Regions from separate parts of the Homo sapiens genome. Here all the other regions are linked to region 2. Evidence: fine-mapped expression QTL. A gene starts in region 2. Each other region holds a variant in brackets. All regions are shown on one strand. Distances are between the middles of the regions.

The links.
Region 1: its variant is fine-mapped to the expression of FSHR in testis (GTEx, PIP above 0.99).
Region 3: its variant is fine-mapped to the expression of FSHR in gastroesophageal junction (GTEx, PIP above 0.99). The same link has a PIP of 0.9 or more in coronary artery, esophagus muscle, ileum, sigmoid colon, stomach and transverse colon.
Region 4: its variant is fine-mapped to the expression of FSHR in esophagus muscle (GTEx, PIP above 0.99). The same link has a PIP of 0.9 or more in gastroesophageal junction, sigmoid colon, stomach and transverse colon.

The regions. Positions count from the first base shown.
Region 1 is chr2:48,963,599-48,971,708 of GRCh38, forward strand. FSHR (follicle stimulating hormone receptor) reads right to left here. Exons shown (of 10, transcript NM_000145.4): 9 at 5,100-5,285; 10 at 1-368. Among named protein-coding and RNA genes, the nearest start is that of MIR548BA, 92 kb to the right of the region's middle. The variant G/A (reference allele first, on the strand shown) is at 3,772.
Region 2 is chr2:49,150,908-49,159,017 of GRCh38, forward strand. FSHR (follicle stimulating hormone receptor) reads right to left here and starts at 3,608. Exons shown (of 10, transcript NM_000145.4): 1 at 3,359-3,608. The coding sequence starts at 3,510.
Region 3 is chr2:48,592,147-48,600,256 of GRCh38, forward strand. All of the region lies in intron 3 of STON1-GTF2A1L (STON1-GTF2A1L readthrough), which reads left to right. STON1 (stonin 1) reads left to right here. Exons shown (of 4, transcript NM_006873.4): 4 at 3,082-6,367. The coding sequence ends at 3,156. Among named protein-coding and RNA genes, the nearest start is that of GTF2A1L, 22 kb to the right of the region's middle. The variant G/A (reference allele first, on the strand shown) is at 3,096.
Region 4 is chr2:48,773,123-48,781,232 of GRCh38, forward strand. STON1-GTF2A1L (STON1-GTF2A1L readthrough) reads left to right here. Exons shown (of 11, transcript NM_001198593.2): 11 at 3,158-3,397. The coding sequence ends at 3,193. LOC105374594 (a long non-coding RNA gene) reads left to right here and starts at 4,243. Exons shown (of 4, transcript XR_001739460.2): 1 at 4,243-4,460. It also overlaps the pseudogene ELOBP3. The variant C/T (reference allele first, on the strand shown) is at 3,197.

The DNA.
Region 1 (8,110 bases), 190 kb before region 2:
CAGCAAAGGCCAGGTTGCACATAAGGAACCTGGGGACTGTGAGTTTATATTGGCTGGTAGTTAGGATCACTAGCACTATGATGTTCCCAGTGATGGCCAGGATGCTGATAAACCATATCAGGACTCTGAGGATGTTGTACCCCATGATATCTTCACATGGGTTGAATGCATCTGGCTTAGGGGAGCAGGTCACGTCAACCACTTCATTGCATAAGTCATAGTCAAACTCAGTGTACGTCATGTCAAATCCTCTGCTGTAGCTGGACTCATTGTCTTCTGCCAGAGAGGATCTCTGACCCCTAGCCTGAGTCATATAATCAACTTCTTGCCTTAAAATAGATTTGTTGCAAATTGGATGAAGCTCAGAGCTAGAAAAATACAAAAAGAAATAGAATCAACATCTCAGATCCAGTATAGCAAATACATCACTGTCTTTGTGCAGGGTAGAAATGATGAGTTTCTTCCTGAGATTTTTTTTTTTTCTTCTCACATCATACCTGCCCTTGAGGCTAACCTCAAGGGTTAATGCTGCTTACTGTAAATGAATATAACAACTTGTATATATATTACTAGAGTTGGATGGCTCACTGGGGAAACCATCTTGCCACAACCTGAATGTGGGGAGGAAGGCACCTGAGACTAAGCCTTGCTGTTAAGTGAAAATAATTTACAGAGCTGGCATCAACTCGACCCTTTTCCTTCTCCCATCTTGATCCAGCTATCTCTTAATACACCTGAGTAGGACATATTCCTATTCGTCTACACTCAAATCACTGGAAGATCCAGACTGTTCGCTGACTCAAATGAGAACTTATTTGCTTCTCTTATCTACATAAATTAGGGGATCAAAATCTGTAGTTAGTTCCCAGCCAGCCCCTATTCCCTGGCTCTTTGGTACTCAGGCTATTAGGAGGCCAGCTAATTTGCCGGAAATGTTACCAGGGTCTTTCCTGTTCTTTATTATCTCACTTTCTGGGGGCCACAATAGGCCTCAGCATGTGCTTGTCTGCAAGGTAAGCCTGGCTCTCTCATATTGAACAGTTTCCTAGTGAGTGCCCCAAAGAACAATGCAAGCTGCAAAAGGACCTAATTTATTCTAAGAATGGAACTCATCCTCTGGGCAGCCTAGCTCTCCTTGGGCTCACTTTACTGTCTTGGTTTTGCCTTTAAACCCAAATGTACAAGGGGCCTTGTCAACAGGATAGAGGTACTTACAGAGGGATTTGAATGAAATCCAGGTGATAAATATTCAATCCACGAGTATACCCATAAATATTCTACCCCAGAGTAGTATATCAATACTCTGGATGTAGAAACAAGAAAGGTAATACTTCTGTTTGGAAGCAAAGGCTTGTGGAATGGGAATAAGCCTTACGTTAGGACCTTTTTGGATGCAAAAAAAAAAAAAAAATTGTACATACACATGCATACCTTTCCCTCCTTCCCCAAGGGGCAAGTTCACAGCAATATTAAGTTGACTGTATTTTTTTTAAACCTTGACATAACCTCAGATATAAGTGGCGAAGTAAGTATCAAACCTTCTTAAGAAGGAAAAAGGTGGCTAGGGGAGTGGAGGAGGTAAAGACTCCATTTGATGCTAAAGGATGAGTCTTGCCAGGTGTTCCAACCTATTATACAGGGACTGAACCTTGCCCCATCAACCTGGATGAGAAGGGTCTGTTAGGAAGAGTGCTCTCCTCTCTTCTCTCACCCCTGGGAAGTGAATTGAATTGCCAGGAAGTCATTTTCTCTTGGCCTAAGGGATTCTTTTTGTTTGTTTGTTTTTTTAAGGCTAAATGATTAACATACACAGAATTGAAAGTGAATGGAAACGGAGCCCAGAAAATGTTCTGGTTTAGTCAATGGTCTTCCAAGAAAGGTGAGGCAAGCTCCATAATGGGTATAGAGGGGAGAAGAGGGGTATCCTGTGGTCCTTAGTCTAACTCTAGACTCTTAAACCCTGTTACTGAATTAGTTGCAGCCTGATTCCAGGAAGAGAAAGTAAGTAACCTGGTACTTGCTGACTGCAGTTTGGTTCATTGGACTGAGCTCTGACTTAACTCTCTAGAAACAGCCTTCACTTCCTATGGCTTATGGTCGCTGTCTGTGAAGGTTCTTATTGTTGATACTGCTGTCCATATATTTTAAATATTGTGCTTCTCTTTTTCTGAAACTGAAGTGACCCACTGACATGAAGTAAGGAGAAAAGTAAATAACTTATGTCTCTGAGATAAGAACAGAAACAAAAGTGGAAACCAAAGGACATCAAGTCTTGCCTCCGCAGTACTTTGGAAAATCCTAATTATCATAAGGAGTTGGGAATTCAGTTTAGGGTCAGTTGAAAAAGTGGCACTCTTGGACTCTGATCAGTCAGTGAACAGATGCTTGGGGGTGGCATAGCAGTGTCGCAGAGCCTAAGCTTTGGAGGCAGGCAGACCAGATTTGGATCTGTTTGGTCAGTGTAGGTCAAGTTATTTAGTATCTCTGAGCCTTAGTTTCTGTCTCTGTGAGAAAGGAATAATAATGATATTACCATTGTGGGAATTAAATGAAATAAAGATACAGAGTATTACAGTGCTTGGTAGTGAATACTTGGCAAATGTCAGCAGTATGAAGACAAATGATGGTGGTTACTTATGGAATTCTTGAGGTCTAGGCCCTGTGTGGGTACTTAGAAGCATATGCAACAGCATGTCAATTTAATATTGAATTGTGAAGAAATGGCCTTCACAACATTGAGTTGTGAAGAAACACAATTTTTATTGTATTTAACATTAAAAATTGAAGAATAAAATGAGAGCAAAGTAATGCAAAATGAATACAGAATTATGACAAGGAAATATCAGGTTCAATGACAAATGAAGACTGTAGTTGATACGAACTTTTGGGAAGAGCCCAGGAAGAGTCCAGGAGGACCACTGGCCAAAGTTTTAGTCACAGGGGCCTCATGTTTACACTCTGGGCATTATTTCCAAATGAGGATCAAAAGAAGAATTTCATCATACAAGTTAAAACTTGAATCCCGCTACCAAACCACATCTACTATGATATACAATGAAATGTCACTATTGAAGGAATAAATCTGAAATTATCTTCTGAATAACAATTATTTTGTGTTGTTTGTGTGTGAATTTGATAAATATGAAAATCAAATACCCATTGCTAAAAATAAAAAATGAAAACCACCTATCACAATTTTTGTTACTCCATTTTGGCATGTAGTGTAAGAACCATGTTCCTCTCCCTTGCTATACCCCAACAGGCCTGGATGGTAAGTTAGAGCAGCAACCTAGAGGGATGAGAGCCGAGTGGTCTGGAGGGATCAGAGAAGACCTCATGTCCTGTGACAATATAAGGTAGATGTGGAGATTCTGGTTGGGAGAGCCTTGAGGCTATGTCTAGAGGAGTCTGAGTAACACGATGAGACAACAAATTCTTGGGGTGTGTTGGAACTGGGCCAAATAGCACACTGCAAGCTGCTCTCACAGTGATCTTAACATTTTCTTCTTTTTTTAAAGACAGGGTCTCACTCTGCTGCCCAGGCTGAAGTACAGTGGCACAATTATAGCTCACTGCAGCCTCGACCTCCTGGGCTCAAGTAATCCTCCCACTTTAGCCTCCCGAGTAGGTGGGACTACAGGCATGCGCCACCACACATGGCTAATTTTGTTCATTTTTTTTGTAGAGACGAGGTCCCACCATGTTACCCAGGCTGGTCTCAAACTCCTGGGCTCAAGGAGTTATTCCGCCTTGGCCTCCCAAAGTGCTGGG[G/A]TTATGGGTGTCAGCCACCTTGCCTGGCCAATCTTAATGTTCTTTATTTCTCCTTTGGGGTATTCAGTCCCATGGACTTGGTGCAAAATTGGTATCTTTCTCACTCTGGATAGAATAATTCTTATCTGGAATATAAAAGAGGCAAGCCACTGCTTCAGCCCAGGACCTTAAGAATTCTGATTGTCAGGAAGAAATTTCCTGGCTCTTGAGCTGATCTATGAAGAGTGCCCATTCTGGATAATATCCCAATGATGCATGCAGATTCTGAAAAACAGCTATTTTTCTACAAATCCTCCAAAAGGGTCTGAGTAGGGACTTCCAGCTACTCTGAAAAACATTTTAGGGTGGGTACTGTTTTGTTGCTCTTTTTGTTTTGCTTTGGAGCAAGGAATATGTCCACATGGACTGGTCAATGTATGTTAAAGGTTGAATAATGGAGGAGACTGTGTTAAACAGAGAAATAATATCATAGGAAAGCTGTATTAGTTCTAGGCTAGTATATAAGAGTAATGAAAAGACATCATTTGATGAGTGCAACTACATGGTGTGGCTTATGTAGGTGAGCTCAGAGGAGCGTGAGAGCTTTGAGAACTCTGATACTCAGTAAGTTCTTACCTCCAATGGATCATTTAAATGTCTGGAACATGTGTACAATCTCCAAGGCGACTTTCTCTTTACTCTTTCCAGATCCTGTCTATGATTACCTCACTTTTTTAACCAGTTAGCTACTAAGACTTGTCTCTGTTTAGATGGCCCTCTTTAAGTCTGGGCTTCCTTGAACCCGGCTTTCTTTGAAAGCCAAAGTAATGAGATGTCTTAATCTTTATCCTCCCTGTGAGGTAGGAAGATCCCAAGGTGGATTAGAGAGGCTTAGAGTGATTGGGATGTGCGGCAGATATGTACATCAGTCTCTGGCATGGCATTTATGCATCTCCCCACCAAAGATGACACGGATGGGGCATTTATCAGGTGCACAGTTTGGGACTTGAAGGATTAAATCTATAATGGTACAAAGGAAAGAGGGAACAGATATTATGCACCAACTCTGAGGCACTATGCTTAGTATTTTTCATGTTTTCTCATTTAGTACTTGGTATATGTTCTGCCACATGGGTAGCCCTCTCCTGTGAGCCCACTTTCAAAGAAATGAAAGAGTTCAACTATTCCTCACTCTCCATGAACTGAATTTTTGACCCAGAATGTGCCAAAGGGCTTGAGACAGGGAACTCTCTGCAAGTAGATTCTCTTCATGTCACAGATAGGTAGAAATTGTGGACAAAGTTCTACATTGGGGAAATGCCTGAGCAGGGCTTAAAGGATGGACTCACATTTGCCGTCTCCAGTTTGCAAAGGCACAGCAATGGCTGGGATAGGTGAGGCTGGCTTCCATGAGGGCGACAAGCTTTTCCAGAGTAGGCAGCTTTTTTAAGTTGTAAGTCGACCTGGCCCTCAGCTTCTTAAGATTTTCTAAGCCATAGCTAGGCAGGGAATGGATCCTTGTTCTTGAAATATCTCTATAAAGAGAAAAGGTAAATATAACAGGATTACTATGGACCTAAAACTTTCTGCTCTTGGTTAGCAGGCAAAATAGCAGACACACTAGTGATATTCTTACATGGATGAGGAGAGAGACTCCGGTTCCTCCAACACACCTTGGCCAGATGGATATTTGGCTAATAGGACATTTGGTTCTGTAGGAGTCCTGGTCCTTCTGTTCCTGGTAGGAGGAGTTAGATAACAGGCCACTCTGATTCCTGGATATACTTACATCCTGGCTAATTTGGGGCCTAAGTGTTGCTGGTGAGTAGAATTAGCCACCTTCCCTTCTACAGTCTATTTGTACCTGCTAATTTGCATGGGACTAAGGGATTGAGACCATTTGTCTGTACCATAAAACTAGCTATAAAAATATTTCTGATGAGCTGGAGTAGAATCTGTGGCCAAATTTCAGAAAAAGGGACAAGAAGGAAATATACTACAAGAGGAAGAAGAGTCTGGCAGGCGGTAGGGGCAGTGTTAGCACAAAGTCCAAGTGGCAGTACAGAGTGGTGGTTACGAACTTGGCGTCTACAGCAGACCTGCCTGCATATGTACCTTGCCCCTCTCCCTATTAGATTTATGACCTTGGTCAAGTATGTCACTTCTCCATGTTTCAGTTTCCTCAGCTGTAAAATGGGAAGACAAAAATCCTATGTGTACCTCAGAGGGTTGTTGTTAAAATTAGATGAGTTAAAGTGCATAAAGAACTTCCTGACCAACAGACAACACTTAGTGTCTGGCAACTATTCTTAGTAAACATAACACTGAGTGTGAGAGAGAGAAAGTTGTTCTTGTTTGGTAGGAAAGTCTCTGCCTGTCCATTAGACCTCAGCACAAATGACCAGTTTAACCAGGTCCCTGCCCCTGATGGGCTGCAAGTTCCATCCTTTCTGGCAGCAGCACCAGTGATGTGGGCGCTTTTCTGGCAGCACCACTGGTAGTTGCAACCTTCAAAACCAAGACCGGCTGGTGAGAACAAGGAGATTTAAATGGCACCAGCTTGGACCTGGTGGGGCCAACAGCTTGGCCGTGAGTGGGTACTTCTGATGGGGATGGTAGCAAGTGATGACCAGGATGAGTTCATTTTAGCATCCTTGGGGACCCTTGGATATACTTGAGTAAGAAGAGTCTTTTAATGTTGGCATTCCCTGTAAATCAAAGCAGTAGGCACTCAGAGTAATGAAACTTGGGGGTGTGAATATATATTTGCTACCCCATATGTTCTCACAATCTGGTGAAAATTACATTTTCAAAGTCTTGCTTTCATTGTATAATTATCTTGCTCAAAAATTTATAATGGCTTCCTATTGTCCAGTGAAACCCATCCCTAACTACTGCCTTATTTGTCACTTCCATTTCCCAAGCAAATTTATACTAGTTGTTCATGCTTTTATTTCCTCATCTCACAATTCAGTTGAGTTTCTCTTCAGCCTCTCGGGAAATAGTACTCACTAAGGCCATGTCTTAGCTCTGATCTCCTTGATTTTGTAATTACATTTCACAGGTAGAATGCTCCTTCTTTTTGAGATACTCTCTTTCTTGGCGTCATATTCTCCTTGACATATTTTCCTCTGACATCTCCGTTGACTTCTTTCTGATGCTTTTGTTTTACTTCTCTTTTATCTGTTCTTTAAATATTAGTATATCTTTATACCTAGACCCCTTCTGACTATACCCAATCTTTTCAGGTGATCTCATTCATTCCCTTAGTTTCAGATACCAGGCATGTGCTGATGGCTTCCAAAATGTGTGTCCCCATTCAGATCCTACTCCTGAGCTCCAGGTCCACATAATCAGTTGTTCTTTGAACTCCACCATTTTGATGACTTGCATCAAAACTGAAGTTACCATCTTTCTTGTAAATATGTTCCTCCTTGTTTTTTCCATCTCAGCAAATGACTCTTCCAGTTTCCCCTGTTTTTCATAATGGAAACCTGGGTGCCATCCTTGACTCCCTCATGGGACATCAGTGTCTTGTTCTCTCAAGCCTAACTTTTAAATGTGTTTCAAATCAGCCTACTTCCCTCCTCTCCTGTGACTTTGGTCTAAGTCACCACAATCTCTGCCTAGACAAATGCAAAGGTCTTATAACTGCCCTCATGACCATCTATTGCAATCTTAGTACTGCAGATATAAAAAATGCCTATTAGATTGTGACTTCCTGCTTAAGACCCTTTAATGACTCCCCATTGCTCTTAGGATGAAGGACAAGTCACTGTATACAGTGTGTTGATCATTTGCCTCTTTTCTCCCACATCCATGTTATGCCCTTCTCTACGCTCTTCTCTGTGTTGCAGGAAGGATGATCCCTGCAGTTCCATTTCCCAGGTACCACCTTATCAATCAGCTTTCAATTGGGTTTAGCAAATGGCACTAGTGGGATACTGGAGAATAGGTAAAAGTGCAAATCTCATCCCTTCTCTGTCTCAGGCAGCAACTGAGTCTTCTCTGTGACTTCAGCTCTCGTTGAACAGATCCTTGGAGGATCCAGCTTCTACCAGTTGCCCCAGTTCCTGGACATCAGTAAGATGACTTCCTCATTTGTTCCTCAAGTCCTAGGGTTAGTAGTGGTTACTATTGCCAATCTCTGGACTACTGATCCCCTGTTTGATGTTCAGGAAGATTTACATTTTCAGAACAATTACCTTTGTTAGGTGTGTGTGCATTTGTATGTGTGTGTATTTTATACATAGTCCCCTCTTTGTTAGCTGTCAATTAGATCAAATCTCCTATATACTTACTGATTTTTTTGCTTCTTTGTTCTATCACTACTGAGAAAATTATAATGAAATCTCCAACA
Region 2 (8,110 bases):
CACCTTTTCACATGGTTGAAAAAAATCAAAATAATGCTTTTTTGTGTGACATGACAATTATATGAAATTCAAATTTCTGTGTTCATAAATAAAGTTTTCTTGGAACATGTCCATGTTCATTAATTTACATGTTGTTTATGGCTGCTTTTCTGCTACTGTGATAGAAGTGAGTAGTTGCAAGAAGTGGTATAGCCCATAAAGCTGACTTCTGGTTTAAAATGTAAAGGATTACTCTTTTTTTTTTTTTTTTTTCAGAATAAGAAAGGTATAGAGTCAGATGATGTTCATTTCACATGGCATGCAGAGGAGATATAAAAGATTCAAATTTGGATCCCAGCTCTGCCATCCAGGAGCTGCAGGGATAATTGCCAGAGCTACTCAACTTTTTTGTGCTTTGGTTTGTCTTATTTGAAAAACAGAGCAATAATTCCAAACTTGCAGTTTTTGGTGAAGTTTTAATGAAGTAGTATGTACAAAACATACTGCATAAAGCAAATAGTAGGAGCCCCTTAGTAAATGAAATCTACTTGCCTGTTGATGGTGCTTCTGTTCTTTTAGCATTAATATCAGCATGTGCAGATCATAGGAAATTAGCAATCTTTCGTGATAGCTGGCAGATGTATCAAATGAAATGAAACTGCTGCAAGGTGAATGGAATGATAGGATAAAAATGTACATAGTAAAATGTAGGAATTGTTTTCCACCCGGTGAGCCTGAGTAACAATGAAGCTTTGACATGTTGATGGATTAAGCAATTGCAGTCAATGAAGTCCAATAATCCATCCACCTACACCTCATGTAATCATTAAAGTTAATACGCAAACTTGGAAGATTGTAAGGTGAATTAGAGATACTTAGTTGAACAGTCCATTTCATCCCTGTTCTGCCATTTACTTAGATAACCTTGATTCAGTCTTTTTAAGGAAGCAAAAATAAAGGTAATTGCTCTCTCATTCTAACAGTATGTGAGTTGTAATTCACTTGACATTTTATCTACTCTTCAGTGATTAACACACTGACCTGAAATAATTTTCCTTTTTTAAAATCTAATAGACAAAGCAACATTTCTCTTCTCACCTCAGTACACCTTTCCAAGAAGATTGCAAAGCCAAACTCTAAGATGGTCCAAGTCAAGCCCTACCAATGAGTGTGCAGAAGACAGAATCTTCTTAAGACTGGGTATTTGAGAGAGCTTCTAAAGCTCTTAACTATACTCATTCCTTAGGTGGAGGAAAATCCTAACACCTGGCAGGAACTTTCTTTCCTTTTCTTAGTTTTATGCAACTTTGTCCTCTAATACGTACACTGAAGTAAGGAATTGACCTAGAGCTAGCCTTTGTCAAGAATGTGAAATTTGTTTCTGGTGCTCTGTTCATCACACTCTCTCACACAGTCTCTTTCCATACTATCTCAACATCTCATGCTCTCTTTCCTTAGTTGCAAAATGCTCTTGGCCAGAGATGTGTTTTAGTCATTTATACCTTAGCATTACTTTTTTTCAAAAATTCATATCCTCTCATAGTAATTCATACAAATATACTCCCTGAAGCTTTAGGGTGTGGGGGTGGATTTTCTTTTCTTTCCTCTTTCTTTTCTTTCTCTTTTTCCCTTTTTCCCTCCATCTTTTCTCTTTTTTGGCCTATGTTTTCTCTGCAGAATGAAAAAAGAAAATCTCTCTTCTGATAAGGAGATTTCAGAAAGCAGACAGGCTAGTGTGAAATCACCCTAAAATTAAAACTTGTTTGGGTCTGTTTGTTTTATCAACTGGATGACACTGCTTGACCCACATGGAAACATTGGAAAAAGTGGAGTAGGTCCAGGAGAGGTGGAAATTAGGGTGTAGGGGTCATCTATATCTTTTAGTGTTCACAACAATTCAACCAAGCAGGTTGTACTAAAATGGCTTCAGAAATGAGGAACTTGAGGCTCAGAAGGGGTTAAGTAATCACTGAAAGTCACTTAGGACCAAATGACTTATAGGAGCTCAGGTACATTGGCCTTCTCCTGTGCTTATATTTACCTAATAAATCAGACTGTCTTTGTGCATGGGCACATTCTTCAGCATAATCAGGAGTAGCTGTCTAATCTGAGACAGTGTAGCCAAAACACAGAGCTGGCCAGTTATTTTCCCTGCCTCTGCAGCTGCCTCTGGATAAGGACTGAAGACTTGAGATGTTAAGGGGAAATGTGGCAAACAGAATCAATCAGGTCTGCAAGGCTGCAACTCATTGTCCCTGAGTGAAAATCTGAAATGCAACACCAACATGTTTCAGTGTCAATATGGCAATTGGTGAACTAAAGAGATGACCACCTTCTTCAATTAAATGCAAATCATCCACAGCTTTAAGTGACAAAGGTTGAAACAGGCTTCTGTTTAAAATCCTTGCAATAAAAACACAGAGAGTATCTAAAATCCCTGAGTCCCAACTTGCCAGTTCTCAGGGGAAGCAGTAACTGAACAATTACTTCAGGCTTCCCTCACTGTTGCTCTAATGGAGTCAGTCACAGTGGGTTGGGAAAACAAAACAAAACAAAACAAAACAGTAGACTGTGAGTCAAAAGGCCCGATTTCTACTTTTGGCTCCATCTCAACTCATCACGAGAGTTTGGAAAATCCTCTTTACTCTTCAGACACCAGATTCCTAATTTGCAAAAGAAAGAGAGAGTAGGATGGTGTCTAAATTCTTGGCCAACTCTAGGAGTCTACTTCCTGTTAAAATAGTTAAGTAAATTTCTAACTTATTAATCACATTTTTTTCCAGTTGTGTAAAAGATTATCCTGTATTTCTCCCTCTCTCTGTGTCTTTCCTATCTTTCTTTCTTTCTTCACACCTTTTCTCTTCTCTACCACCTCCTTTTTACACCCAAAAGCAGAATCTCAGTTCAGGAATTATTTGCTGCTGCCTTCAAAACGACAAAGACTATGGCCTTTTAGATTCAGTGTCCTCGGGAGACATACCTTGTGTATTCTGCTTAGATCAAAGCTGCCTTTCTGCCTCCAATTCTGGGTCTCCTAAGTTTCTACTTTGCCTTCATTTTCCTTTTCTGGTTCCACTAAAGAGAGTATGAAACCCAAGAGCAAATGCATTGAAAAGACAAAACTTTTCCCTTTGCCTTTGGATTCCGGTTCTCTGACACTGCCGTTCTCTGACAAATGCTGATACAAACTCTCATCTAAGATTCTTGGAAAGCCACAGGCAGGAGGGTTGGGCTGGGGAGTTAGTTGTTTTATTCAGGACTTCGGTCAAGGGGCAGAAATATTTCAGTCTAACAGATATCAGCCTAATGTAAAAATAATAATAGTACGCAATGCACAAATGCCAGCCATGCAGTTGTTCCCCCTCCCTCTGATACTCACAGTTCAATGGCATTCCTCGGGAGGTCAGAAGGAATCTCTGTCACCTTGCTCTCTTGGCAGAGAAAAACCCTGTTAGAGCAGTGACAGATCCGATGATGACATCCTGAGCCCAAGCTCAGGAATGCCAGCAAAGAGACCAGGAGCAGGGCCATAATTATGCATCCATCCACCTGATTTCTTCCTGCATTTGCAGAGAAAAACCTCCACAGATCTCAGAAGCTCCACACAGTGCCCTTATGAGAAGAGATCTGACTTGAGAACTGGTAGGGTCATGTGACCCACCAAGGGATGCTTTTTTTTTTTTTTTTTGTTACTTCCAGGCAAGATAAGCTACTCTGTTTTCCTTCAAGATTGGGTTTCTTACACCCTGACCTAAGGCACACAGCAAATAGAACCATTAGGCATGTCTGGAATAGTTTGCATTATTTCATTGCAAAAGTCTCCTTGCTGTTCACCATTCTCTTCTCAACAGAGTGACATGATTGACTTTCTCCAAAAAAGACACAACCCACAATATGACACATCACTAAGAGGGGTACTAATAAGTGAAGGGCTGGGACCTTCAGTCTTCAGCATCAATTTCTTCAACCAGCCCACCTGAGAGAAAACCAGCCCTTCTGGGTTGCATTCAATGATCCTCTTTTTTTGCTGTAATTATGCCAAAAATGGCACTATTCAGAAACAGGCAGGTGGGTTAGCAAACCTTAGGCAGATTTCCGTAGGTGGGAGGTACTTCTGATAGGGTTATCTGTAGCGATAATTGACTGAACTGAGTGATCTAAGAAATGTGCTATGTTTCCAGTGGGGATTTAGTAAATGCCAGCACATCCACCCCCTCGTGCATATCCTGCCTGCCTTCTCGCATTTCCAGGCTCTGAAGATTGCCCTTGCCTTTTGGCAATTGGCATAAATGAATTTATTTAATCTACGCTTTTAACTTACTTTTAAAAGTTCCCTGAGGTGACAGCCCAGCACTTTTGTTGGCATTCCCCTCCTCGATGGTGAGGGATCTGAGGAACGTTTGGCAACACTTTTAGAAAAGTGGCTTTCTACTTTCAATTGTAGAATCTATGAAGATTAAAAGGCAGAATATTCTCTAAGATCCTGCCCACAACTTATTACCTGCTAAAATTAGTTTCAATACTATCTTTAGATAATTAGTTGCATAAAATTGAGCTTCATGAAAATGTTAAAAATACCTACTTATCCCACCCCTCCTTCCCTCTCCCCTGCCTTACCAAGGAAAACCATGTAAAGAATGATTAAATTATTAAGAAAAAAACAGAAGCAAGTGATTTGGGGGGCAAAGTTGATCCCTAGATTTTTTCTGGGAGCAACTGGTTTATTCTAATTCTGGAATTGGCAGACAAAGGCAGTATCTATATGGACTTCATATTTTTAACAAATTGGCTAACATGAATGGTTAAATTAGTTTGTTCAACAACTGATCCAAGGAATTATAGTCTTTCAGATGTAGAAGGAAGTTAATTCAATCAACCAACTAATGCTTAAGTTTAAGTATTCATATTAATTTAAACGGATTTTCTCATCTGTACTTGAATAACTCCAGTGACAAGAAACTCACTACCAATTAAACCTTTTACCCAATTCCTCTGCCCCATAAGTCCCCTTCTAGCTTTTGGAGAGCTCTGTAATTAGTCTTAGTATAATAAGCAGAAATCTTTTTAAAATTGAGATTTTTATTTTAAATGCTATGTCGTATTCACAACTTATAGGTAACATAAATGTAATTTATTAAGCATAATAATGCAACAAACAATTGCGGGCTGGAGAATAAAGGACATAGCCAGTCCTGTTGCATCTACTTAGTTGATTTTCCTTTATTACCTTCTTGTGTTCCTATGCCCAAGGTGACCATTAATCTGAATTTTGTGGTTATTATTTCATTTGTTTTGTAAAATTAATCTTGTCACAAAATGTATCTCCAAGGAATATATTATTTAATTTCTTGCGTGTTTTTACATTTTTACAAAGTCTATCAGTCTTTTAGTAGTATTTTGCTGCTTACTATTTTACACTAACTAGACATTTTAAAGAAATAACCATGTTGTTATGTGTACCTGCAGTTTATTAATTTTGTACCTGTTAGGTATACCTGTAGTTTATTAATATTATACTACTGTATGATATTCCATTGCATAAATATACCATAATTTATGTTTTCATTCTCCTGTAATTTTTAAAATCCTGAGGTTGTGAAAATATTATTTTATATCTTCTCTAAAATTTTTTAGTTTTGCTCTGTACATTTTGGCCTTTGATCTATTTGGCATTGAGATTTATGGGTGTGAGTAAAGGACTCAATTTGTTTTTTATCTGATGGCATAATGGTTTTATCCACATGGATAAACATTTGTCCCAAAACCATTTATTGAATGGTCCCTCTTTTCTTTTCTCACTTGTAAAACTACCTTTCTCATATCTCAAGTAACTATTTTGCATGGGTTTGTGTCTAAGCTTTTTTATATTCCACTATTCTTTTTTCTACATTACACCAATGTTATACTGTCTTAATTACTACAACTTTAAAGTAAGCCTTGATATACAGTAAGAAAACACTTCTATCTTATTTCCTATAGGAGTATCTTGCCTATTTTGGACCTATGAATAAATTTTAGAATCAGATTATTACACTCCTTGAAAACACCCTGGTATAATTTTGTTTGGAATTATATTGATTATATAGATTAATTTGGGCAGAAATTATCACCTTTAAGATAACAAGTCTTCTTATCCATGAATATGGTATAGCACCATGTTATTTAAGCCCTTCTTTGATGTCTTTAAATAAAGCTTTATACTTTCTTCCATATATGTCCTAATATCTTAAATGTGTTTCCTGATGACATCCTGTTTTATGCTGTTATAAATGAAATCAATATTTAAAGTCACATTTTATGTTTGTTGTCATACTGTAAAAATGCAGTTAATTTTGGAATATTTATCTTATATCTAAATTACCTTATTACATTTTCTTTTTTTTTTTTTTTTTTTTTGAGACAGACTCTTGCTCTGTCACCCAGGCTGGAGTGCAGTGGCTCGATATTGGCTCACTGCAAGCTCTGCCTCCTAGGTTCATGCCATTCTCCTGCCTCAGCCTCCTGAGTAGCTGGAACTACAGGTGCCCGCCACCACGCCTGGCTAATTTTTTGTATTTTTTAGTAGAGGCGGGGCTTCACCGTGTTAGCCAGGATGGTCTCGATCTCCTGACCTCATGATCCACCTGCCTCGGCCTCCCAAAGTGCTGGGATTACAGGCGTGAGCCACCATGCCCAGCCACTTATTACATTTTCTATGCAAACAATTATCCATATCTAAATAATTCTGTGTATGTGTGTGTGTATGTGTAGAGAGTTTCTTTCTTTTCAATTCCTTCCTCCCTTCCTCCTTTTCTTCCCTGACTCCAACTTCCTTTTCTTCTCTCTCTCCTTCTTCCTCTCTTTCTACTCTTTCTTTACAATAATAATTTTTTTTTTGTTTTTGACATGGAGTTTCATTCTTGTCACCCAGAGTGGAGTACACTGATGTGACCTCGGCTCACTGCAACCTCTGCCTCATGGGTTCAAGTGATTCTCCTGCCTCAGTGTCCTGAGTAGCTGGGATTACAGGCACCCACCACCATGCCCAGCTAATGTTTGTATTTTTAGTAGAGACAGGTTTTACCATGTTGGCCAGGCTGGTCTCGAACTCCTGACCTCAGGTGATCTGCCCACCTTGGCCTCCCAAAGTTCTGGGATTATGGGTGTGAGCCACCACCCCTGGGCTACAATAATGATTATATGCTATTAAACTACACATTTCCTAATACTTTATTTAGAAATTTTGCATCTATGTTCGTAAGTTATTTGTAACTTAATTATGAGTAATTTTTAGTGCATAATTAATTCCTAAGTTTTCTTTCTCATGTTGTCCTTGTATAGTTTGGTGGCATTGTTACGTTTGCCTTATAGTCTGAATTGGGGTATAATCCCCCTCATTTTATTCTTAGGGAAAAAAAAACTGTTTCAGATTAAAGTAATCTATTCCTTTAAAGTATGCCTGTATTTGCCTAAAAAACCATTTGAGCCTCGGTTCATATTTGTGTGTATATATGTGTGTCTGTGTGCATGTTTGTGTGTGTCAGTGTATGTATGAAAATTTAAACATATTGATTCAACTTCTTTAATTGTTATTAGATGATTCAGGCTTTCTATTTCTTCTTAAATTTATTAAATTATATTTTTTCTAGGAATTTTTTATTTTAGTTAAGTTTTAAAATTTACTGTCACAAAGATTTTTAGTATTCTCTTTTTAAATCTATTCTAAACAATTTCTAGTCTTGTTTATTTCTGTCTAGTTTCTTTTCATTAATCAACCTTTCCAAAATTCTCTTTATTTTTCTTGTTCTTTCAAAGAACGAACTTTTGCCTTTACCCTTTGCTGATCCAATTCTATCTTTATGTTTTGTTTCCATGATTTTTGCGCTTATTTTTTCCTTTTTTGTTGTTCCTTTCTAAAACGTTTTATTTATATGTCAGATTATTAGTTTTCAGCCTTTCTTCCTTTCTAATAATATACTAAAGCTGTAAATTTTTCTGTGATTTCTGCCTTGGCCCTCTTCTACAAGTATTGATAGGTAGATCTTTCATTACAATTTATTTTTAAATATTTCTCAATTTCCCATTACAATTTCTTCTTTGGCACATAGATAATTGAGAGGTGTGGTTTTGAAACTTACAAACTTCAGAAATA
Region 3 (8,110 bases), 560 kb before region 2:
CCATTTCTCAAAATATGTGCTGCAGAACATGTGTCCCATATAATTATCCAACAAAAGAATAAGTTGGGGAATGCCGTATACTAAATTAATGTTAAATAAAGGCTCCCAAGAAGTCCTGCAATAAGGAAACTTGTTAAACTTAGTTAACCCAGTTTTTCCCAACTCATTGGCTATTGTGTCTTGTCTTTGTGGGTATGTGTATGTAAAACACTTATCCCTATCTTGTGGAATAGTGTTCTGTGGAGCATGCTTTAGGAAATGCTGAGTTACTCTATTATGGTAGTTTTCAGTTTTTTTTTTTTTAAGACGGCATCTCACTCTGTCACCCAGGCTGGAGTGCAGTGGCATTATCTTGGCTCACTGCAACCTCCGCCTCCTGGGTCCAAGCGATTCTCCTGCCTCAGCCTCTCAAGTAACTGGGATTACAGCCACCCACCACCACACCCAGCTATTATTATTATTATTATTATTATTATTATTATTATTCTATTTTTAGTAGAGATGGGGTTTTGCCATGTTGGCCAGGCTGGTCTCAAACTCCCGACCTTAGGTAATCTGACCCTCTCGGCCTCCCCAAGTGCTGGGATTACAGGCGTAAGCCACCATGCCTAGCCTATTGGTAGCTTAAAGTTTTATTTTAAATTTTTAAATAGAGATGGGATCTCACTATGTTGGTCAGGCTGGTCTCAAATTCCTGGTCTCAAGTGATCCTCCTGCCTCGGCCTCCCAAAGTGCTGGGATTACAAGCGTGAGCCACCGTATCCAGCCTGGTATTATGGTAGTTTTAAATGTTTGCCATCAGCTCTTCTGCATTCTTAGGCAGATGAACTAAAGGAGGACATACACTTACATCTGTTTCTAAACTTGTTTTCCCTTCTTATCCTCAAGTTTAGTAGATATATGGATGTCTCCTGCCACATATTTCCCACAGTATCTTGAAATGGTGATGCATCTTGCTGATTTTGTTTAAAAGGTTTTCTTTATTTTGAGACAGAGTCTTGCTCTGTTGCCCAGGTTGGAGTGCAGTGGCATGGTCTCGGCTCACTGCAACCTCCGCTTCCTAGGTTCAAGTAATTCTCCTGCCTCAGCCTCCCGAGTAGCTGGGATTACAGGTGCCTGCCACCACGCCTGGCTAATTTTTTGTGTTTATAGTAGAGATGGGGTTTCACCATGTTGGCCAGGCTGGTCTCGAACTCCTGACCTTGTGATCTGTCTGCCTCGGCCTCCCAAAGTGCTGGGATTAGAGGTGTGAGCCACCACACCTGGCCTAAAAGTATTTTTAACTAGAAAATATTTCAAAAATCACAAAAATTAAATAGTGCATTACAGACAGGTGGTTCAGTTTAGAATGTATGTTTCCCTTCTGTCTTTCACATGAGCAACATTTTATAATTTCTAATAGCATTTATTTTATTTTTAAAAATTTAAATTTTGCCTGTTACACAGCCCTCAGGAGGTCCTGAGAACATGTGCCTCTCAAATAGCATTTTAAAATCTATGTGTTGCTTGACTTGCAGCAAAGATTAATGCCATTCTGATTTTCTACTAATTTATTTCTATTAAAAATAGTGATATTATACATGACATCGCTAATATCAACTGGGTTTCCTATACTATAGTAATGTGAGTCAGGATTTTTCTTTATTTTGGACTATCTGTTTAGAAGTCTATGTTTGGGTCCAGTTATCTTTTTCTACTGATAAAAGTAATGATAGGTAGTGCTGTCCTGTGCAGCCCCTTCAGACCTGAAGGATGTATTTCCCCAGCAGGTGGGAATTGCCGCCGCTGAAGATAGCTGCCTTTCCTGAGGTCATGCCTCCTTCCTGGAATCTATGCAGGGGTGTATAGGCCCCTTTGCATCAACTTGGGCTAACGCTGTAGGTCAGCCCAGCTTCAGCTCTCCAGGGCATGGACAGAAGCCTTCATTCTGACTACATTGCATCCCAGCTTCTCTCTCTGCCCATTTAGCTTCATTTCCTGCCTCACTCCCCCATGAATGTTGAACTCAACGGCACTCTCCAGTAAACTTTCTGCACACAGATCTCCATCTCAGAGTTTATTTCTTGGGGAACCTGACCTATAACACTAGGTATATATATATTATGTGTGACTGAAATGTGGGTCAAGTGGCATGGAGACTGTGTTTATACTTATTTTCCTATTCACAGGGCATGCCAGGTTCATGCAATTTTAGTGGACAATTAAAAATTACTTTACAAAGTATCTCTTGCTTTAGTAGCATTTACTAGTTGATGTGCACCTGGTGGCAGTTTCAAAATGTTTTCTTCCATTTAGTAATTATCTGTTGCCAGATACTGCTCCACATGCAGGGACACAGCAGTGTGAACAGAGAGACAAAGTCCCTGTCCTCATGGAGCATAGTTTCTAGTGGGGGTAAACGAAAAATAGTTAGTAGATAAATAAATAAATAAATATGATTTCAACTAATAACAAATTCCAAGAAGGTAATAAAATAGGGTAACGGGATAGAGAGTGACTGGAGGGCTTTATCAGGGGTAGTCCTGGAGGACCTCCAGGAGGATGTGACATTTGAGCTGAGACAAAAATGATGAAGAGCAGATGGTTTACTATTAGGTTGCTGCAAAAGTAATCACGGTTTTTGCCATTAGTTTTGCAGCAACCTAATAGTTTGTAAGATGGCTTGTTTCAATTAGATAATTTTGGGTGCATTATAAATCTTAAGGGGGCCAATGGCTAGATACATGATACAGCCATATATTCAGGTAGAGGGATAATTGATCATATGTCTAGTCAGATCTGTAAATTTTTTTTCAGTATACATATTCTGTATACATTTTATAAAAACTACGTTTGACTTAGAAGACAGTTTTGGTGCTCTTGAAGACTTGACCCTGGCGGGGAGGATTTGAGGGGCTCTGTTGTTCAAAAGGAGAGCAGAGCGCCTCACTTGGAAGCTACTGTAGGAGGGTAGAGGGCTGTGTCTGTGTCCAAAGGGTGAGGTTTGTGCAGTCTGTGCCACATGTATAAAATAGGACTGAAGAGGTGTGAGTGCTGTGTTGCATTTGTTAATGCTGCCTGTGTTTTGCTTTTGCATAACAGGTTGAAATAGAAAA[G/A]AAGTGGATTAAAATCGATGGAGAAGACCCAGATAAAATTGGTGACTGCATAACTCAGTAGGAGTAGCAAGAGTTTATGATGACAGCCCACTTGTCAAATATGTAATTCACCGAAACCACACCAAGTCCTGCTACTGTAGAGTGGAAATGACTTCTGAATAGCGGTTTTAGGACAGGTCTGATGGCTGTGTTTAGAGAAGTTTAGACCTAAAACCGAACAATCTGTATTTTTTGCTTTTCATGTGTTTTTGTCCTAGGGGTTCGATCTAAAATGTTTCTATAATTCGTGTGATGTTTTGCTTCCTATTGAAACTCAAAGGCACTGTTACTCGTTGTGTGACCCCGCAGCCAGTATGATTTTTGATTACTCAGTGGCTGACTGTTTTGCTCTCTGGATTACTGAGGTGCCGTCTTCATTTCTTCCCATCTCTTCTTGCTGCTTAGTGTCTGTACTAGAGGGTAAGGGAATCAAAGGAGACATAAACCAAAATAGTTAATTTTCCCTCTTTCTTGCCTCTGAAATGTGGCTAGGTGTAGAATGATGTTGAAACCACAGGCTAAAATGTAGATCTGGAAGTATCTGTGCTTTTGAATTACTTATTTACCTGTCCTCTTACCGTTGGTAAATAATAATTGGCTATATTTGGTACCTGTCTCTCTCCTACTGTATTGTCATTTTCAAAATGTGTTTGTTTTCTGGCGCGTGCTGCAAAGAAGCTATTTCTGTTGTCCTACATATTTTAGTATAAATCACTAAGACATATTTCCTTTCACTTGGCAGGATTCCTTTCAAAATGGAATCTGAGTATTAGACACTAGTTAACATATTTGTGTATATTAAATATGAATTTTTAAAATTTATAAATACTATTTTCCAAAAGTACAGACTCTAAGGACATATTTTGATAAAGTATTATTTGTAATGAACACAAGCCTCTCTTGAGTAGAAGTCTAAATCACATTATGATTATTTTATACTAGTTCTGCTATCATGCTGTTTTATGCTAATTCTGCTTATTTTAGAGTATTTTTCATTAAAAGGTGAGCAAAGTGAAAGATACTTGGTATTTTACCCAGATTTCTAAGTGGCAACATTTTTATTCTTCAGAGTCAGGTAAATGACTATAATAGTTTGGTTTCTAATGAAAAGTCAATAGCATTAGCAGTTATAATTCTGTTTATAATTTCCTTTCAGCATTTACAGTGAAAAGTGAGAATTTTAAAATTTATGAAATCTATATTCCAGGTATTGTTTTTAGTCTGAAAAACAAACTCCCCCATGTGGTATTAATATACCTTCAATTTATGTTGAGTCTTAAACATAATTAGGAGATATTTTTCTCTATTTGCTAGATTTGTTTTGAGTCAAAACTGATTTAGTGTTCTTCCAAACAACATTTATGTGTTGGCCTACAGAGTTTATTTCATGTGTTTTTTTTAATATTTAATATTATATTACATTCATTGAAATCTGTTCAAAAACAGATTAAGACAAACATTTATGATGGTCTGTATCAATCAGCAGATTTTATTGCTTTTCATTATTTTACTGTAAAGGCAAAGAATGCAATAGGTGATGGTTGGTTGAAAGGAATTGTTATTGCTGTTTTTATTTTTTACTTTTTTTGAGACAGAGTCTCACTCTGTTGCCCAGCCTGGAGTGCAGTGTGTCATCTTGGCTCACTGCAACCTCCGCCTCCTGGGTTCAAGGGATTCTCCTGCCTCAGCCTCCAACTAGCTGGGATTACAGGCACAAGCCACCATGCCTGGCTAAAATTCTTTTGTATTTTTACTACAGACGGAGTTTCCCCATGTTGGCCGGGCTAGTCTCGAACTCCTGACCTCAGGTGATCCACCAGCCTCGGCCTCCCAAAGTTCTGGGATTAAATGCGTGAGCCACCATGCCCGGCCGCTATTGCTCTTTTTAACTTCATTTGATGCCTTGCTTATAATATCATATGCTTGAGGCTCACTGTTGATGTAGAGTAGGGCAAATCTGTGTGTGTATGTCATTAAAAAAATTCTACCATCTTTCTTTATCATCTGGTGTGGGCGCACTCTACAGTGACTTCAGTCTGCTCAGAACGAATGTGGAGGCCGGCCGAAACTGATGCTGCCCACAGTCCCAGTGAAGTTAGGTGGGTTAATTACTGCCATTCCTTTCTAAGTGTGTTTTATGGCATCCTGCCCACAAAGAACTCACAGTCTGATTAGGATGAACTTAATGACTATTTACACCTCAAAATATATTCAGCAAAGGGTTCACTTAGTTGCCCCTCATGCTTCACAGGTTGACTAGTATCTGTGGGTACCTCCCTGCCCAGGTTATTCACTCACAAGCCACCGGGCCTTCAGGACATCTCAAGATTCAGTCTTGACAATATAATAGCAAAAGCTGGACTAAAGCCCAAATGGATTGTCTGTGGCAATGCAGAAGCTGATAGCATTAACAGCAGGGTGTTACAGCATAATTGTTAATTCGCACATCTATTAGGATCCTTAAATATTCATTACTTAATGTTAAATTAACATTCTGTGTAGGGAGGGGAGGCTTATTCAATTCTTCTGACCTCAGAACTGGCAGAAGGTCAGATGTGACTACAGAACTCTAGGTGAAAAATCAGGTAGGGTTCAAATTAAGTAGAACTGCCCTTGCCGGAATAGTGATCTTCAAAAAACCCTTGCTTTTAGGGGAGGGAAGCGGGGAAGGAAAGGAATGAGGGAGGAAATATTCCTTTCTAGCATTCATTTTGCTTAGATCACTCCATTGTGAGTTTGACCATTTTGGAGTCAAATGAGCAGACTTCCAAGGAGTTGACCAGTTTGTGACTAGTCTGGTCACCTTTCCAGTTACAGGATCATATTAACTGTGTAAATGAATTCATGGGTAGATGATTTGTGCAGATCTGAATTTAAGAACATTTCCTTTTTCTGTGGGAATCACAAGAGTTTATCCACTAAAAAAAGATATGTAAAAAAGATACTTTCCAGCACATAAATAAAGGCTGGAATTTTACAACCTGATGTATATATTAGACAGTTCTAGGATGTTAGTTCCCTTCATTCCAGAGCTATGCTTGTGATACAGCCCCTTTTCTTATAAAGTCAGTTAGAAGGACTTCCTTAACAATGACTATTATAATGTCTTACTTAAAATACAGTTTTGTATTCTGTCAATGCAAATATAAGACAGGTTGAGCCTTAATCATGTAACAAAATATTTTGTAGATTACATATTGATTTTTCAAAAATTAAAAATGTATTTCAAACTATTCTTACTGTGCTGTGAATTTATATCTTCTTCTGCAAGACCTGGGGCTATTTTTTTTTCTTAAGGTATGAAATCAATTTCAATAACCTTAAACAATTGACCCTCTGTCAGGCATATGTCAGGCTCCACTCTTAAGGAGTCAGTGACCATGACCTCTTTGCATATCCTGGAAAAATGACATCATCAAAGTATAGTTGATAATGTTATAAAGGATGATTTTAAAAATAGGGTATAATCATGACTCACAAAGATATGAGGCTGGGTGTGGTGGCTCACGCCTGTAATCCCAGCTCTTTGGGAGGCTGAAGCGGGTGGATCATGAGGTCAGAAGATCAAGACCATACTGGCTAACACGGTGAAACCCCGTCTCTACTAAAAATACAAAAAAAAAAAAAAAAAAAAAAAAAAAATTAGTTGGGCGTGGTGGCGGGCGCCTATAGTCCCAGCTACTGGGGAGGCTGAGGCAGGAGAATGGTGTGAACCCGGGAGGCGGAGCTTGCAGTGAGCAGAGATTGCGCCACTGCACTCCAGTCTGGGCAACAGAGTGAGACTCCATCTCAAAAAAAAAAAAAAAAAAAAAAAAAGAAATATATGAAATGAATACATGCATAAGATTACCACTATTCAAAGCCTTTCACAATTTTTCCTTGAAAACAGGAAAAACTTTGTCCACAGAATTCCATGGAATTTTCAACCTTTGGCAACTTGTAGAGTAGTCCTGTAGAATTAATGTGCACCTAAAAGCCACATTTTTAAAGTTTAGAAAACCAGTTTTACAAAATTGCACAGAATATATATCAGGTAAGATATACGTGTGGGTGGTAGGGAGTTGGGGGAGAGTGGAGGAGAGTTGTGCGGGAGTGGAGGGAGGCTGTAGGAGATATGAAGGGAATCAGTGCTTATAAAGGACGAACCTAACAACCTCTCCACCCTCCTTTTTATAAGAAATCTGCCTTGTGTTGAAATTAAATTTTTATTGAGCTACTAAAGTTAATATTTCAAAAAGGCATCAGTACTTCATAGAAGACAGAGCATGAAGCACCATTTTAGCCACTGCTAGCACTCACAAGGCTTGGCCCTAGTTCTTCAGGAACAGCAAAAGGATTGACTGGCAAAAACTGACCATATTTGTAACAACAGTCCTCAAAATCCCATCAATCAATTCTTCCCTGTTTTGTCTCAACTCTGGCTAGACTGTCCCACCGCTTTTGTGTAGACACAGGGTAGATTTTGATGTTGTCTCTCCTAGACCCTCCCCATCCTCTGCAACTACTGTATTCCAAGGAACTTATACCCTTAGCCAGGGCCCTAAAACACAGGGTTATGTGTATTCTGTTGAATCATATGTAATCGCCAATATTTACCTTTCTTGATGGGAATTTCACGGGCTCAATCTAATTATCCACATATTTCCCTAGGTCATATGATACAAGCACTTTTTGTTATCCTGCTTAGAAATGGCAATGAAATATGAATTTGACTAATTTTTAAAGCAAGACAGAGTTGCTAGTCAAGAAGCAAATAGTTGAATTACAAAAATCCATAGATACAAGCTACAGATAATATTGTGCCTTTAAAATCATCTGTAAGGAATGTAATCATTTTCCTCTGTAAGGAAAAGGAAAACTGATTAGATTAATTGCCCCAAGTTTTAAAATATTTCAGTTCATTTCCGTGAGACTTCCTGGGGAAGAAAGGCACAGCATCATTAGACTCTGGGTTTTGCTGCTTACCCTTCATGTAT
Region 4 (8,110 bases), 380 kb before region 2:
ACACATACACGGATAGTCACTACATTCTGATAACTAACTAACTTCCAACTGTAATATTGGTGTGGTTCATGAAGGCCCCTTTGCCAAATATCTCTCTACCTCCTTCACAGGCCTGAGATTCTTTTTCTGGGGAGCAATGTTTTCTTTGTTTGAGGAGAGGCATCATGATCTTCTCACTACATGTAAATGATTATGTCTTTCTAAATGGAGAGTGTTAATATCTCTGAAGGACAAAGGGTGCAGGAAGGAGTGGCTGGGTACACTTGAAATGTAGCCCCTTCTTACTCATGCCAAAGTTGAATCTAGATTCTCAATTCAAATGATCTTCCATCCCTCACTTCTGAATGATCTCCCTTCCTTTTATTGGTGCAAGGAATTACGGGGCTGGGCATGGTCTTCTGTTTACCCTCCTACCCTCCATCAGTGACTTTAAATCATTCCAATGAAGTAAGTATCTCCTATTTTTAAGCACTAGAAGAGGATGTTCTTCAATATCCCTCAATCATACATTCTTTTTTCTGACAAAACTCACCCTAGAAATACTTCTTTAAGCCAAACTTCCTAAATTCCTTACTTGCAGTGTTACAGCTTGTTTCTTGTTGGATTGCCGTCCGAGATTAAGAATTCTTAATCACATCCCTTCAGAACTTTTATCTGGAAGATCTAACATGGTGAGGGATTATCTGACCCTCCTTTACTGGTGAGGCTCAGAAGTCTAACAGTGTGCTCAGACACCTAGTAACTCAGAGGCTGATGGATACTCCTTGTAGGTTTTAGTTTCCACATCTGAAAAATGAGGAGAGCAATATCTACCCCCTCCTCCTCACATGGACTTTGTAAAAACCCTGTAAGATAATGTGACTAAAAGTACTCTGGGAAATATAAACAAATTCAAGTTATTATTTAAATACTTCTCTCTTTTCCTTTGAGTTTTGCTTTGCTGCAGTTTCATCCTCCTTTTCTACAGCACTGGCTTTGCTGTAGAAGAGGAATGGCATGGCATGCTGTCAGAAGCCACACAGCCCTCCAGCACCCTCCCTCTGCATCTAGCTTGCAGCTCTGTTCCATCCTCAGCATTAATTTTTAGGTTTGAATGGATATCCTGGCTTACATGAACTCAGGTTACTCTCTTCCTTAACCTCCTGGTAACCTGCTAAATCCCTGCAGACACATTGTTCTCAATTGGGGGCATTTCTCTCTCCTTTTCTACTGACAAGGGGATATTTGGCAGTATCTGGAGTCATCTTTGGTCATCACTGCTGGTGGGTAGTGCTACTGGCATGTGGTGGGTAGAGTCAGGGATGCTGCCAAACATCCTAAGATGCATAGGACAGCTCGCTTCCCACAACAAAGAATTATCTGGTCTAAAATGTCAGTAGTGCTGTGGTTGAGAAGTTCTGCTATAGATAAAATTCAATGAAATACATATTCTTCTCCCTTCCCCTTCCTTCCTTCCTTCCTTCCTTCCTTCCTTCCTTCCTTCCTTCCTTCCTTCCTTCCTTCCCTCCTTCCTTCCTTCCTTCTTTCCCTCTTCCTTCTTTCTTCTTCCTTTCCTTTCTTTTCCTTTCCATTCCTTTTTACTTTCTTTCAACAGCTATATCAGATATAAAGGTATAATTGGTATACAATGACCTGTACATACTTAAAGTGTACAGTTTGATGATTTTTGACATCTCTACATGTAAAACCATCACCATAATCAAGAAAATGAATCTATCCATCACTCCCAAAAGATTCCTCCTGCCCTTTTGTAATTCTGCCCTCCTTGGGCCACCCATCTCAGCTTCCCAGCCCCAATCAACCACTGATTTGCTTTCTCTCACTTGAGATTAGTTTGCATAGTCTAGAATTTTATATAATTTGAATCATACATTATGCACTTTTTTTCTGGCTTCTTTCACTCAGCATAATTATTTTAAGATTTATCTATGTCATTGCTGAACTACTTATTCTTGAGGAAAGATAAGCTGATGGTTAAGAACAAAGGGTTATGACTCCTGGGTTTTTGGGTCATTAATAGACACTCTTTTGATGATTTTACTTCTTGGATGGATGCCTCACTTAGCTGTTCCTTCCCCTGCCCCCACAATCAATTTTCCTTATCACAGTCTTTAATACCTGGCCAGTGAACTACCTCAGTGGTCTTCTAATAGGAGACTTCTGTCTCTAATTTCTACTCCCCTTAACTTATAAAACTTCATTCCCTTTTTTTTCTCTCAAACAGAATATTAAAGAGCTAATCTGTGGGATACCAGTTTGGGAAATGGTGCCCTGACATAGCTATTTTGTTTTTAAAACTCTGCATTTCAGACTTAATCCATGTGCAGTATACACACACACACAGAGAAATGAATCTTGAGACATCATCTCTAATCAGCACAGCTTACCTGGTTTTTGCCTACTTTGGTGCTAAGAATCTTTCCTGGAATTATATCTAGTTAAGGTATCCATATTTAATAATAGGAAGAATTCTTTAACCAGGCACTTTGAAGACCATAAAAAATAGTTAACGATAATTAAACCCACACATTATTATGAGAAGTATGTAGATTTTACTACATTGTTAGCCTAGACATACTTCTATACAGCAATGACATATGGTTTTGAAGTGGAATTCTTGAATAAATCTCAAGTTGCTCCTTTCAAGATAACTGAGAAAATCTTGATTCCTAAGAAAACAGTCCTCTTTATCATCTGTTCCACAGTTTTCTTTCCCATTTATCTTCGTTATATAGGATATGGCTCATTCTTTTCTCTTCCCACACAGTCTTCTGTGGGGTTGGTCATTTCTTTATTTTAATGCTTATATCACTTTTCTTCAGTCAGTTATTGGTATTTGTATCTGCAAATGCTCCAAGTTCATTTTAAGCATCAAATATAATTAATATTGCTGAGGATGTTTTGCTCTTCTCCTGGCAACTTGTTACCTGGAATGCTCTCTTCTGTTTGTGATAGGCATTGGTTGTCTTGCCTACCCAGTATCCTCTTCATTTGGTAATAGTACTGTGTTCTTTTTTGGTGTGGGAGGACGCTATGTCCCCTCTTTAATGTGTTTAGTTAACGTAGCAAGATTTCTGAGAGGGGGCGAATGGTGAACCTAGGGAGGCCTAACCTTAGGTCCCTGTGTTCTCAATGGTATATATATCTTTTTTATCAGCAGGGAGATACCAGGGTTCGTCATGGGCAGCAATGACTA[C/T]GATGGACAAGAAGATAGAGGCCCTAATCCTAATTTTCTGAGCACCATGGAAGCCCCCTGGATTCTAGGGAGACCTTGAGGAGAAAGAAGACTCCTGTAAATGCCTGACATTGAAATTCCTGCAAGTCTAGGAGCATGTGAACTCAAAATGGAAATTAATTTGATTTAATAAAAATAAAGAAGAAGAATTGTTTTGGCATATCCCAGTTTGTAGACTGAGATTCATAATGGTTGTAGGCACTTAAAAATTATCATCCGTAGATTAATGAGTTTATTGAGTGCCATCTCTACTCCGAACATTATTAGCAAGACTTTTTGTGGGTAAAGCAAAGACATATGGCCCTGCCTCAGTCTTCTGAGAACACGTAGCCTGCTTGGAGACAGAATATTCAAATAGGTAGGAGGAGGTTAATTTCTTACAAGGGGTAATCCATCAGGGTCTGATAGCAACTTAAGAGCTACCACCTGCGGGCGCCTATAATCCCAGCTACTCGGGAGGCTGAGGCAGGAGAATGGCATGAACTCGGAAGGCGGAGGTTGCAGTGAGCCAAGATCGTGCCACTGCACTTCAGCCTGAGGGACAAAGCGAGACTCCATCTCCAAAAAAAAAAAAAAAAAAAAAAAAAGGAAAGAAAAAAAGAAAAACAAACAAACGACAAAAGCGAGCTACTACCTGTACCTAATTGGTAAATGAATGGCCTGGTCAATGAGCAGTGAGTTCAGCTGCTATCATATTAAAGGGAATTGAGAGAAAAAAGAAAAACAGTAAGAATTTAATGTCTTTTGTTTTACTAAGAGTGAGTTTGCAGGGCTGAATTTTTTTAAATTTTTTTATTTTTTATTTTTGAGATGGAGTCTCGTTCTGTCGCCCAGGCTGGAGTGCAGTGGCACGATCTCGGCTCACTGCAAGCTCCGCCTCCCGGGTTCACGCCATTCTCCTGCCTCAGCCTCCCGAGTAGTTGGGACTACAGGCGCCCGCCACCACGCCCGGATAATTTTTTTTGTATTTTTAGTAGAGACGGGGTTTCACCGTGTTAGCCAGGATGGTCTCAATCTCCTGACCTCGTGATCCGCCTGCCTCGGCCTCCCAAAGTGCTGGGATTACAGGCTGAGTCACCGGCTGATTGTTTTAAGGAAAGGAGCAGTTTATTTCTGCAGCTCACCACTTCCCAGGGAGCCCATGCTTTGTGAGCCTGTGGTCTCAAGAGTTCCCCATCCAGAGTGGGGAGTCAGGCCACTGGAACAGCCTGCAGAAATCAAGCAGGTGGGTAACGTGCTCAAAGATGTTTTGTGCTTGCCTTTTCCTCGTCTTCCCAAATATGCAGCACTTGTCCAGGTCAATGTCAGAGGAGCTTATGTTCCTGTTAAGCAATAAGACCCAGTAGGCAGAGAATTGCTGTGGAATTAGGGGAATTCAGAGTGACTTTGTATGTCAGGGACATGAGCCTCTGCTTCCATGCCAGTTTCCAGCACAAGGTTGTTTGAAAGCCTTGCTTAAAAAAAAATCTCGAGGTATGCCCAACTTGGAGCTCTCGGATCTGATGTGGGCAAACTGAAGAGATCAGATCAAGTCCCTTAGTTCCTTAGAGATCTAGGCTGTGAAACTGGGTGACTAGGGAAGGGATTTGAGTCATGATAGTGTGGAGTTAGTCTTAGGGCGTTCTTGGACAAGACATGAGGTCTTTTTGGAGCTTGGTTTTACTGTCTTAGTTTTATGGTAAAATGGCTACAAGAATATGGGCAGAGCTTTAATCAAAACCAAACACAAACATCTAAATATCCTACATTAATACATTAAGGAGTGGTCATTTGCTTTACAATGATAGGATTGCCCCCTTTATAAAAATTCACAGTAATATCCATTTATAGGGCAGTTGAACTTTCATTTGAAAATGGAATTTGGTTTGCAGAATGTGATTGTGTTTTCAGCTTTTAAGGAAAATATCAGTTGTAAAAAGGGAGTTCTGCATGTCTTCTTGCTCTGTTCCCCTTTCATCCCTCCATGCACTCCTCCTTCTCATGAAAACTGTGAAGATAATGTCTACATGGTACTTAACAGATGTTTAAGATCTGAGCTAAAAATCCAAATTGGTGATAAGCTCATCATCAAAGATGTACTGGGGCTCATTCTCCAGTGGCTTCTGGATTGGGAGGGGAGAGACCGGGGATCTGGTCCAAACTTTGCCTCAAAATAGCTGGGTCCCTTTGGGTAAATCTTAGAATTGTAGAACCTTTGATTGGAATAAAATTAGGGATCATCTTATCCAACCTTCTTTTGATGAAAGTATTTCATCTACAGCATCCCCAGCTGAAGAGTATCTAGTCTCTTCACTTTCTGGGCCTAAGTGTGTTCATCCAATGAGAGGAACAGGTCTCCATTTGAATCAGGTCTGAAAATGAGGCTAGGAGAGTCAAGAAACTGGAGGCCAGGACTCTGAAGACTAAATGTAATGATATCAGAGTTTGTCAAGGGGCCAAGCCCTAGGTATAGGGTCTGAGGAAGACTCTCTGGGGAATAAAACACTACACGTACCTTCCCTCTTCACAGGTCCATCCTCCTCTGGTCAATAGATGGGGAAGAGTTCTGAGACTTTTAGACACTTAACAGTTTGACCTGAAGCTGCTTACAGATCTACCTCAGCATTTCTAAAGAAAGACAAAGTCAGGATGTCAAGTGAGCTCTCTTCATATTTGAGCTAAACATTATTCCAAGGTTGTGCAGCCTCAGCTGGCCTCTTGCCCTTTGCTTCACATCCTACCTCCTCCTTCCACCCTCCCACCCCCACTTCCAGCTTTTTTACAGCATGCAAACTGCAAACCTCAAGGGCATGCAGTTGAGTCTGGCTGAAATCTGCTGAGTATTTGCAGGGTTTATCTGAGGAAGAACCTTTGGGTCATTGTCATGGCAATTTTGATAATCCTGACGACATACAGATGTGACTGTTCAGGGCAATCTGAGAATGCCTCCCACTTTCTAGCCTCAGCATTGCCTGGGGCAAATGGAGCTTGCTTACTTGCTTACTCTTTTTTTTTTTTTGTATTCTTGTGCAAATAAAATAAAAAAAGAGTTCACAAAATTTCAGTTATAAAAATCCTGTGCCAAAAAAGTTTTATCAAAAACTTCATCTGGAGTTAGAAAAAGATTCTAAGAGGGTTGGATGAGTCACCAACAGGACTGGACCAATAGTCCATTTCTGCATATTGCTTATTTGTTCTCCGTTAACATGTCTACTCACCCTTTCCAATACCACCAACCCTCCCTACTCCATTCGGATCCAGAAAATGAACTCAAGGCTAGGGATCTTTTTCAGTCATCTCTTGATGCCTCCAGTACCCAGCACCGTGCCTAGGAATTCAGTAATGTTTGATGGATAAATGATGAGGTGGGCATAAGATAGCAGAGAGATTTGCAAGGTGACTCCTGATAAACAGAGATTGAATGAAGGTAGGGATTGGTGGTGTGAAGAGACAGGGGCTTCTAGGCTTTGAGTGTTAGCCAAAGCTCTTGAGCATGGAATTGATGCCATAAAGATCAATTCCAATAAAAATATACCTGATGTCAAAATGTGTGGAGAACTAGACTTGGAGAGAGCTTAGAGGCAGGGAGACCAGCAAAGAGTATCAACCTGTTTTCTTGAAAAAGTACAGAATGGAGAAGAAAGTGCTAGGGGAGCCTAAAAGAGACGTGTTATTGCAGGTCCATTTATCTGCCCAGGAGCACAGCCAGGAAAGATTCAAATGCCTAAAGAGTTGGGCACCAACTTGTACATGAATGTTCACGGGAGCATTATTTATAATAGCTAAAAGTAGAAACAACCCAAATGTCTATCAGATGACAAATGGATGAACAGTATGTAGTATATTCATGTAATGGAACATCATTTTTCAATAAAAAGGAATGAAGTACTGATACATGCTCCAGAATAGATGAACCTTTAAAACATTATGCTAAACGAGAGAAGCTAGTTGCAAAAGGACATATGTTGAATTTTTATATTTTTGTGAAATGTTCAGAATAGGCAAATCCATAGAGACAAAAAGTAGGTTAGTAGTTGTCAGGGGCTGGGGGAGGGAGAAATGGGTAGTGATTGCCTATGTGTGTGGGGTTTCTTTTTAGGGTGATGAAAATGTTCTAAAATTACATATTGGTAATGGTCGTAGAACTCTGTGAATATACTAAAACCCACCAAATTATACATTTTAAAAGGGTGAATTGTATGATGTGTGAATTAGGTCTCAATAAAGCTGTTATTAAAAAAGAGTAGGGCTGGGCTGGGGCCATGACCACCGTCTTCACGGACATCAAGGAGTCCAGCACCATGCTGTTGAAGATATCCTGAAATGGCTGCCTGATTAGCAACGGCTGTACAAGGGTGACCAGCTCCTGGTGATGGCAAGACGATGCATGAGTTTGGCTTCCCCAGCCACAGGCCACAGCTGCAGTGGGGCTGGATTTCTGGGTCGGGTCAGAGACACCTATGAGGCCCTGCACATCGAGCCCTTCTTCAGCCCACCCATGCTGCCTGATGTGATGAATCCCCAGGACTCAGGAAGCAGCACCAATAAATAAGCCTTCCAGTGAGGAAGGCTTATTTGACCTACCCCAGAGAGGCCTCAATAAAAGATAATTGGGTATCTAAAAAAATAAGTAAATAAATAAAAGAGCCATCCATCTGACCTAAGAGTTTAAGTTTCTTGGGCTTTGGAGAAGAGTCAGCAGGGATCACAAAGAATAAGAATGAGCCATCAGACCCTTGAAGCAGGTTGTTCATGTTAGTAAGCAGTGTGTGTGTGTGTGTGTGTGTGTGTGCAAACTAATTCACAAGTCCACAAGTGGCTGTCTCGTTTTCCTTTCCATTTATTCCAAATGTGAGCTAGTCCAAACCCAGCTTGGGCAGGGTCCACTTGATTCTG